2 separate regions of the Homo sapiens genome follow, and region 2 is linked to region 1. A link means that fine-mapping ties the variant in region 1 to the expression of a gene that starts in the linked region. Tissue or cell type: tibial nerve. Region 1 holds a variant in brackets; the other region holds the start of a gene. All regions are shown on one strand. Distances are between the middles of the regions.

What was found. PIP is the estimated chance that this variant, and not a neighbour inherited with it, causes the effect.
Region 2: it holds the start of SEMA5B, and the variant in region 1 is fine-mapped to the expression of SEMA5B in tibial nerve (GTEx, PIP above 0.99).

Annotation. Positions count from the first base shown.
Region 1 is chr3:122,941,781-122,946,925 of GRCh38, forward strand. It overlaps SEMA5B (semaphorin 5B), which reads right to left. Exons shown (of 23, transcript NM_001031702.4): 4 at 1,656-1,755. Among named protein-coding and RNA genes, the nearest start is that of LINC02035, 58 kb to the left of the region's middle. The variant C/T (reference allele first, on the strand shown) is at 2,128.
Region 2 is chr3:123,025,766-123,030,910 of GRCh38, forward strand. SEMA5B (semaphorin 5B) reads right to left here and starts at 1,998. Exons shown (of 23, transcript NM_001031702.4): 1 at 1,699-1,998. RefSeq lists an enhancer at 2,602-3,109.

The DNA.
Region 1 (5,145 bases):
AAGGCCAGTTTCCTGATTTTAATGTTGTCCTACAGTTATGCAAGATGTTAGCCTTGGGGGAAACTGGGTGAAGGGTATATGGGATCTCTATTATTTCTTACAACTGTGTGTAAATCGACAGTCATCTCAAAATAGAGAGTAAAACAATTACTCTCTTTGCTGGGAAAATAAAGTCCATCCTCCTGTATAGTTGCATATGGACAGACTCCCTCTGGGGGCACAGTCAGGAACCTCACCACTAGGTGAACCTTCAGTCAGGGGTCCTGCTTGTTTGAGGGGGTGGCCCTGCTTTTCACCATATACTCCTTTGTACCTTTTGAATGTCCTACCATAAGACAAAATAGTTAATTTAAAAATTAAAAAATTAAAAGAAAAATGCTTTCAGGCCCAGCTTCACAGCAGCCCTGTGAGACTGGTGGCACAGAGACTGTAACCCAGACTTTACAGATGAGGAAACTGAGGCTCCAAGGTCAAGATCCCCCAGGACAGGAACCCAGCTCATCCACACCTAATCCAGAGCTGTGTTCTTGACTTGCCTCATTTTCATACAGCAAATGAAGGGGTGGAGACACTAAAGAAAGCTCCAGGGCAAGGATGGTCAGCTACAGCATGGCCCGGAAGTGCCCAACCCAGTGGCCATCCTCTCCCCAACCCCACACCCACTGAGTCAGAACCTCTGGGCTGCAGAGCTGAAAAGTAGTGCAGTCCCAGGCGATAACACAGACAGACCTGCAGAGAAACTCTAGGCCTGGGTTAAGGAGACCTGGCTGTAGTCCCCACACCCTGTTGTCATCATGCTATGTGATGCTGGGAAGGTCACCTTCCCCTCTCAGTGCCTCTGCTACCGCCTGTTTAAAATAAGGACGGTTGGATGACACCAGAGATTCTCAAACTTGAGTGTGGTCAGGCCACCTGGAAGGGTTGCTAAAACACAGGTTGCCTCTTCCCAGAGTTTCTGACTCAAGAGGTCTGAGAAGGACCCAAGAATCTGCATTTCCAACACATTCTCGGGTGCTGCTGGGCCAGAGACTGCACCATGAGAGCTACTGGGGTCGGCCCTCTCTAAGCCCCCTCCCTACCAGAGCCAATGTTCTGTGGTTTCATGAGGAATGAGCTCCTCCTAGTCCACCCAGAAAGTCTCCACAGGTTCCCCCAGAGAGTACTGTCTGTTGATATTGGATCTGAACAGTGGACTAAGAGGTCAGGCCAAAGGTAGGTGAGGTCCTTCGGGAAAGGTTCTACCCCTACCCAGCCGTCCCAGGTGCAGGCCGCCGGCTGGCCGGCAGGGGGCCCCTGGGCACCTTCTCTGCATGGAACTCCCGGGGAATTGGCCCAGAAAACCATTCTGACAGCCGGGCAGGGACCAGGCAGGGACCGGGCAGGAGGTGGCCAGCAGGCGTCCCTGCTCTCACTAACTGCCAACCACAGGGGCCTGCAGCTGGCTGAGATTGCGAGGTCAAGAGTCACCCCCACCCCCACCCAGCCGAAACACGCTTCCTCCTGTGGGGGGACAGACATCCACAAGGAGAGGGCCCAGCAGAGAGGATGGGGCCCAGCACGCGGGGCTGCCCAGGTGAGTTCATCCTGAATAATATTCCCTCTACCCAGCTCCAAGCCCCTGCACTTCCCACCCCGACCCTTCTGCCCCTTGTTACCTGGCTCCCACGATGAGCTGGTTCCCGGAGGGGTCCAAAGCCAGCTGGGAGAAATCCCGGGCTCCAGGGTAGGTGAAGTTAGAGACCCACGGCTGCAGGTCTGGTGGAGGGAGAGGCAACCCTGTGGTTACTGTTGGGCCAGAGGCTCCCAGCTGCATCGCAGCAGACCACAGAACAGAAGGGTGAAAGTCAGGGGGAAGTGGGGCGGTGGCACCCGGGAGACCTGGTGCCACCTGCCCACCTCTGTGTGCCCCTAGGGACTTGGGAGTGGGTGTTGTAGTCATTCTTCTGCCACACTCCTTAGCTCAGAGGAGGGCACTACCCTCCCCACAGAGGCATGAAGGGATACTTATACTCGCCCTTGACTTCCCCCAGACCTTCACTAGCCACATAAGTACACACTGGTAAATCCTGCCTGTTCTACCTCTACACTGCCTCTGAAATCCATCCACTTTTTTCCCACTGTATCCCA[C/T]CTACATCCAAGCCACCACCAGCTCTTGTCTGGAGCAGTGCCAACAGCCTCCTAACCAGCCTGGCTTCCAGGCCTGCCCCTCGAGTCCTTTTCCCACAAAGCAACCTGAACGCTTGTTCTCAAATGCAAATGTGGTCATGTCACTCTCCAGCCCAGAACCCATCCATAGCTCCCAACTACCCCCAGGAAAAGTCCAACTCCTGCGAAGGCCCTTGGGTTCTGGTCCACTGTCCTCCCAAGTCCAGTGCCTGGCACAGTGATTATTTACTGATCCCCTGAAAGAATGATGCTTCACCTTTTACATTCCCTAAACTCTCCACCCCAGCCACACTAAAACACTTCACACTTCCCCAAATCCATCCCACAAGAGCCTGCAAACCTTTGTGCTTCTGTTCTCCCTTGATGGAACAATTCCTGTTCACCCCCATCCCTACCTCCTCCAAGAAGCCTTCTCTGACTGCTTCAAGCCAGGCTAAAGGGCTCCCATAGTCTTCTACTTTACTGCCACACTGTGTGTCTAGCCTGGTAGTTTGCCCTGGGGGCCAAGAAAGACTTTGCTTCCTAGATCTCCAGGCTCAGTCCAGCACCTAGCAGTGTTTGAACGAATATATGAATAATCCTCAATTCCTTCTTGTATGAGGGGAATTGGATTTTCAGACAAGATTCTGCAGAGGTGGGAGGTGCAGAGATTGGGCGGTCAGTGTCCACCCTGCCTCCAAGGAAGGTTGTTCCCAATCAAGGCCTTTCAAAGGGACTGGGTGGGCAGAGAGGAGACCTCACGGCCTCTGGGCGGATGGGGAGTGGTCTGGGAGGGCCTGCTTAGAAAGTGCCAGCTGACTCGCCCGGTTTCCCTCCTGCTGGAGACACACTTCTCCCTTCTTGATTCACAGCCTCCTGATAGCTCTCCCTCAGCCTATGCATGACCCATGGATGGGTGGGAATTGGCAGCAGTAAGGAGAGAGCCATGGAGCAGAGGAACTTTCATGCCGCTGTTGGTAAAGATTCAGGGTAATGGGAGGCACTGTGCTTTCTCCCCACAGTGCCTTAGCAACTGACTCACAGAAGGGCCAGGAGAGAGAGAGAGATAGAGAGAGAGGCAGAGAGAGAGAGAGAGTCTGTGTGTGTGTAATCCAAAGGAAATAAATCATTGCTCATTATCCCTCCACTACAGAGTAAAAGCAGCCCTTCATTTCTGCACGACAGGCAAACATTTAATCGCTCCCTGGAGAACTGGAGGTTTTGTGAGTTGGATGTTTTTCAGAAAACTGTGATAGGCATGATTAAAAAAAGAAGAAGAAAGAAATTCTGCAGCAAAATGAAGCAAACCCCTTGGGCCTGCCTTTGCCCCCAGCAGGTGATTATAGGTTGGTGACTATAGGTTGGCAAGAATTGTCATGTAGTCACGATGGCTTTTGGGCAATATAGGATAAGAAGTGGATCTGGAGTCTGGTGGGTTAGGTTTTTAGCTGACCTCTCAGAAATCCTGGATAAATATTACATTACCTTAGAAATGAAACCAAGGATCCTCCTCCTCCAGGAAGCGTTCCTGGATTACAACCTCTCCACCCTGATCTTATTTTGCTCCACATTCTCTCTATTTTTCCATTCCATTCACATTGTATGTTATGGTGTATTTGACCACTCTGAATGTGGTCAAATATTTTCTGTGTGTGTAGGGCAGGGTCTTCCCTGTCCCTATGAGACTGGGTGCTCCCTAACAGCAGCAAGCACCTTAATTTCCTCCTTCCCTTTCAACAAGGGCATTCCAGATGTAGGCAGCTAAATGAGGGAGGAGGTGGCATGACGGGTCTGCAGTAGATACTCCATCTGGGGACTTCCCAGCTCAGTCTTCACTTAGGCCCTTTCTTGGGGAGGAGGGGAAAAGAAGAGGAAACAGGGTACAAGATGGGATAAAAATGGGGAGGTGGGGGTGGGGGCATGGAGGGTGGTGGCCTCTTCCAGTTTCCGTCCCTCTCCCAGTAGCCCTCACCCACATGGGCAAGGGGGATGGGGGAAGTGGGGAGAGAAGGAGCCGGGCATAGCACGGGGATCCTAGGGGGGCCTTGGGAAGGGAACCAGCCTGCTCGTATTAAACAGGCCAAGGGGACCAGAGGGAAGGCTGTCTTTAAAACACCAAGCACGTTCCGAGCTCTGTGTGCGGCAAAGGCTTTGGACGGTGACTTTAAGAGAAAAAGACATTCTCCATGACACGCCTGTGATTTTAATTATAGTCAATTCAATTACCCACCTTGTGGATTAACCACCGTCATTTGTTAAGTCCAGGCTGGCTTCTCCTGCTGCCTGGAAAGGTAACACTGGCAAATGAGAGAATATGCAGGCTGAAGAGAAACACAGCTTGGCCCCCCTTAAGAGAAACCCACAGGGGAAAATTTAGCCTTACAAAACAGAAAAACAGCAGTCAGATTCTGTGACTGGCAGCTCCTCTAGGGTATTTAGGGGTTATTCACAGCTCAGTCAGGTGTCAGGGGAGAGGGAAACTCACAGTTACAAGGCTGGCAGCCTACAGATTGGTCAGAAAGGAAGTGTAACATCCTAGGGGGCTTGGAGGCTGGGGTTGGTGCTGTCCTTGATTAGGGCAACTTCTCCTGAACACAGCATCCCCAGAGCACAGTCCTTTGCCCAGCATGAATTGAGTCCCTACTGTGTGCTCAGCTGTGCTAAGGGATGTGGGAACACAAGAGAACCAGTCCTGGTCCAGGACCAGAACCAGTACCAGCTGGGCTGAGGGACCAAAGGCAGTGACTTTTAACCAACAATACGAGATCATTAGGTACGCAGAGGAAACTCTTGTTCACCTCTGAGGCCCCACAGCATCCCCTTCTGTGCCTGGCACAAAGCAGGGCCCAATAAAAATTCAGCAAACGGATAGGAAAACTCAAAGCTGTCAGAATGGGGAAGGGGAGAGGGGCATTCCTTCATTCTGTAGGAGGATGGGGCGAGAAGTCAGATTCATTCAATGCATACCTGAGGGTCAAAAATGGTCTCAAGGAACCCAGG
Region 2 (5,145 bases), 84 kb after region 1:
CACCGCCCCATGAGTGACCAAGTGGCAAGTTCCCCCATCTCTCCTATATTTTATCTCCTTTCCTCCTCCGTTGAAAATCTAGACTTCGGGAAAGGTACTGGCTGTTTCTTTCCAAGCTGCTTTCAAATCTGCCCCCCTTTTCCGTAATCTTGAGGTCCAGTTACAAGGTTCAAGTTCCCCTCTTGCCCCTTCCTCAAGGTCATCTGTCCCGGCTTAGAAAAGGTGAGAGGCCACTGCTGATTGTCAAGAAGAGAACAGGCTTAAAAAGATGAGCTGAAGTGGGGAGGCCGAGGAGCAAGCAGGCAGGGAGGGCTGTGGAGAGAGGCCCCGAGGCCGAAGTGGGTTGGGGTGCCTGAGAAAAGCGGAAGGAGGTCGGATTCACTAGGGGCTGAAGGAAAAAGATGGGGTTAGGGCCAGAGAAGGTAGGATCGTGGTGAGGTCTAGACACAGGCAAGCTTCCAAACCCTCAGTCCCAATTCCGTTGGCCGGGAAGGAGTGCATGCCAGGGTAGCCCGCCCTCCCGGCTCCTGCTGCTCTCACCCCGCCCCTCTGCAGAAAGCCTGGGCAGGATCGCAGGGGTGCGGGCAGAATCCAGCGCTCCTCTCTCCCCATCCAGACTCTCGGCCCACTCCCGCCTGGCGCGGCGGGCAGTCGGAACTACCCAAAGACTGGGCTCGAGGTGGGGGGCGGGGGCGGGGAGGAGGGGGCCAGAACGGCGCTGCAGGTGATCCTCCTCCTTGTTTAAAGTTTGCGGTGGGCAAAGGAGTCGGCTCCGTTGGGCCGGGTTTTCTCGAGCCTCGCCTTCTTCCTCCGCCGGTCCGGCGACCACTTCCCTCTTGGCTCCCGCCCCGCGCGGGTCCCCGATCCCCTCTCCCGTCTGCATCCCTCTCTGTGCCCGAGCGCCCCCCGCTCCCTCCCTCCTCGCTGGATCTCCCGCAGGACGTGAGCGGAAAGTGAATGGGCAGCCCCAACCACAAAGACAAATTACCATGAGAAACATAAATCGGGAAATCGCCGCTCGCGTCCCTGCTTCCAGCTGCCGCACCCCTCTCCACCCTCCCAGCCGGGAGTGCGGGGCCCTGAGCCACTGCCCCTGGAGCCTGGTGGGCAGAGTTCACGCTCCGCAGGCCTGGTCAGGGCAAGAGTGTCCTGGAGGCGGGTCTGGGAAGAATCCGGGCGGCGGCTCCGCAGGCGGCGGCGGTGGAGCAGGGACGTCCCTGAGCGGGAGATTTCACACTCTGGGCGGGCCACGCGTTCCCACGCGCCTCGCCGCCCGCACTCTCCCTCAGTGCTGTTTACTAGCCGGCCCTCTCTGAGCCTCCATCTCCGCACCTCTGTCCCTCCGTCCCTCAGCCTCACTCGTCCGTCTCCTTCTCCAGGCCTGGGTCCCGGGTCCCCATCGCCGCTGCAGCCCAGATGCGCCGACCACAGCCCTGGCAGGGCCCAGTGCAACCCGGACCCAAGCTGGCTGGCGGCGGGAACGCAGCAGCGATGAGGGCTCTCAAGCCGAGGTGGCAGCGGGAGGCGCGGAAGCCAGGGGACCCCCTGTCCTCCCGCCCGCAGCCTCACCTACCTGGCTTCAACTTGCCAGAGCCCGGACCCCTACCTCTCTACCCCGATACCCACCCGAGTTGCTGAAGTTTGCAAGTTGCAGCCCCAACCCGCGCAGGGGAAGCGCCCGGGGCTCCCGGGACTCACCTCCCAGAGGCGGGTGCAGGTGCCCGGTTCCCCGCGGCTCCCGACTCCCGGGCGGCGCGGAGCGGCGGGAGCTAACCAGATGGGCTGGCGGCCGGTCTGGGAATGGGGCGGCCGCGCAGGAACGGCCTCCAGCTCTCAGCGCTCCGGTGCAGTCCCCACCCGGGCCCGCGCCCGCTGCGCTCGGGCTCCCAGCAGCCGCTGGATGCGCTGCCGACCCGCCCGGCTCGGCGGAGCTGGGCTCTGGCACCAACCCCCGCGCTCCAACTAGCTCCCGACCCGGCGCTCGGAGAGAGCAGGGAGGAGGAGACCGCGGGAGCAGAAGGAGGGAGGGGGCGGTGGGGGAGGAGTTGCAAGCAAAGGGAGAGAAGGAGGGGAGCGGGAGCGAAAAAGAGGAGGGGGCTGGAGCAGACCTGCCGCGGCGGGCGCTGCACCCGCCAGCCTCGAGGCGCGCGGAGGAGCGCGAGGGGGCGCCCTGCATCCCGCGGCTGCTCGGCCGACTCCCGCCCCGGGCCTGCCGAGTGTGGTGACCAGCCCGGTGGGCCGAAGCCCCTTCCCCGGCCGGCATTCCGGCGGCAAGACCTAGGACTCCGAGCACTTGCCGCCGTTTGCCACATCCCGCCTTGCCGTTCTCGGTCACCCCATCTCGAATGTGACATCCCCGAGGGCCATCGGCGCGGCCTGCCCACCCCAACACTCAGGGCCTGAGGAAGCTCCCCCAAACCCCACTCCGGACTCCCACATTCCCCAGCCCCGTCAGTTCGGAACGATCTTCCTGCCTGTGGATTTGAAGGGGAAGGGACCTCGTGTAAAACGGGGGAGAGCCGTTATAACCTGCAGCGGCAGAGAGGGAGGCTAGGCTGCTGGGCTGGGCTGGAAAGCCAGAACTGGCCGGATTAGGGTTAACCTTGCAAACTGTACGATACCGAGCGAACCTCTCCAAGCCTCAGTTTCCTCAGCTGTAAACTGGGGTTAGTAATACGCACCCTACAGAATTGTGAAGAACGAGTAGGGGATACGGGGAGTAAAATAACATCAGGAACAGTGGGAGGGCAGCCAAGAGATGAGCGATCCGGGGAGGTGGTGGAGCGTTCTCAGCTGAGGACGGAAGGTTTAGCGCAATCACAAGGAGCGAGGCCGAATTGTTTACAAGTTTAAGTGATCTAGTGTTTCTGATGGCTAGAAGGCGGGAGAGAAAGATTCAAGGGGCAAGCTTCAAATCCTAGCTGCCCGGGCTGCAAGAGGGATGGGAAGGGAGCCCTCTGCTGAACAAAAAATATATTTGAAAATGTAAAAAAAGGTGACCTAAGAACGAGTGAGAAAGACAAAGGATTTGAAAAATTAAAACCAGGAAAGTGTGATTCTAAGAGATAACCAAAGAGAACTATGAAATAAAAATAGATAAGTTGGAGGAAGGAAAATATCAAAAGACTTTCTAGAGTATGCCAAAAATTGGATAATTAGAACAAAGTCTGAGTGAAGCATTTTACATAATAAAATTCTGGGTAAAGGAAAACCCAGATAAAGCAGAAGAATTGAGACACTAAGAGCCCCAGAGAAGCACCTCCTGCCTGCCATCCTCCTACCCCTGGACCATGGCAAGAAGCAGTTTGACAGGATAATGGGAAAGAAAGGGTGGTTCTGAATCCAAGAAGGGAGTTTATGAGACACTGTAAAAAGAGAAACAGTGCAAGATCTCAAAGATAGACTTTCTAGGGCAACAGAAATGCTGAAACTCATAATGTGCAGAATGGAGAGAAACTTGCAAAGGGAAAACACGCTCTGGACACAAAGGCAGAGATGCAGAGAAGAAAAGAAAGGAAACGGGCATGTGTGGGCATACCAGTCTGGTAGCCCAGTCTGGGGTAAAAATCAAGTTGGAAGAGGCAGCATGGGATATTGAGTCCAAATCTATCATTTTATCAACAAGGACAATGAGCTCTGGACCATTCTCCCAGAGTCCCAGGCTGAGATAGGGATAGGTCTCCTGATCTCCACCGTGGAACCTTTCCACTGCAATGAGCGTGCCCCCCCCCCAACCCCCATTCCCTGCAGAGCCATGGGGAATGTTTTTGTCATCACAAAAAATAGAAGTATGTGCAATATAGAGATACCTTTTAATTAACACAAAAAACCACGAAGCTATTCCATACTGCAGGACCAGGGAATGAACAGGAGAGCTTCCAATTTGTCTGGTTGGGAGAATAGACAAAATGCCTTCTGAGTGGCTCTGTCAGCCACAGCTCTCCCTTGAAAGATAACCAAAATATTCTCCACCCTTCACACATTCTCTCACCTGCCCTCTTGTTTGCTACCATGTTTTGATTGTGTTCATTCTTTTCTTCCCACTATCATGTCAAGGCCTTTCCTGGCTCTCCCTCTCCATGTTATAAAGTGGAGAGGGGGTTTGGGGGCTTGGCACAGGAAGGGAAGAGAGGAGACTCCAGGCTGGGGACACAAAGAGGGAAATTTTCCTTTTCAGGGGAAGCAGGAGCCAGGACAAGGAGGCACCCAAAGAGACAGACCAAGTAGCAGGGCAGCTAGCAACATTGGGCTAATTAATCCTAATTGCATCCTAAAGCATTGTATTGATTAACAGTGATTACTCAAGAGCTCTCAATACAAGAGAGCTTCAGAAGCCCAACCCTCCGGAAGAGACAGTTTCTTTACTGGCCTGGCTTACCACCTGCTCTTTGGCAAACCCAGCCTGGTTAGAATCTCTGAATCATTTACTTGGAACAAAACCTGGAGCATTGATTCCATCACCACAGTATCACAACCAGCTTCTGCCACCTTCCTTAGACCTTTGCAATAACCTATAAGATAATTGCTTCTGTTAGGAGCAATTCTTCTTCTACCGAAACATTGTAATTAAGCAGAATGGAAATATAGTAATTAACACAGTGTTATCTCAAGCAAACAAGCTAAAGAGCGGTGAATATAGGGGGTGACGGAGTTTTTAGGATTCACTCTTGACCTAGAAATTCCAAACTTATCTTGAACTAAGGTTGAAAGAGTTTAAGAAATAGATCCAAATTCTCATGCTCAAGAGCAGGAAAGGGTGGAAAAGCTAGGAGCACAACACTGTCTTCTTCCTCCCACCTGAGGGCATTTTCTGGGAGATAAAGCTAAAAAATGAGTGCAGGCTCTCCCAAGAGGCCATCTCTCTCTCTCTCTCTCTCTCTCTCTCTCTCTCTCTCTCTCTCTCTCTCTCTCTCCCCTCTATGTGTGTGTGTGTGTGTACACATGCTTGTGCATAGCCCAGGCACAAACACAAACCTTGTCTTGCAGCAAAAGGCAAACAGCCAGTCATATACTAATAGGAGACAGAGAATTGAAAATAAAAAGACAGCACGTATAATGTCCAAATTGTTTTCTGCTCCCAGAATTGCCTGCTCATTGTGCCTGGGGATGGCAAAGAAAAAAGAAAATTCCCACCCCAGAAGTCAT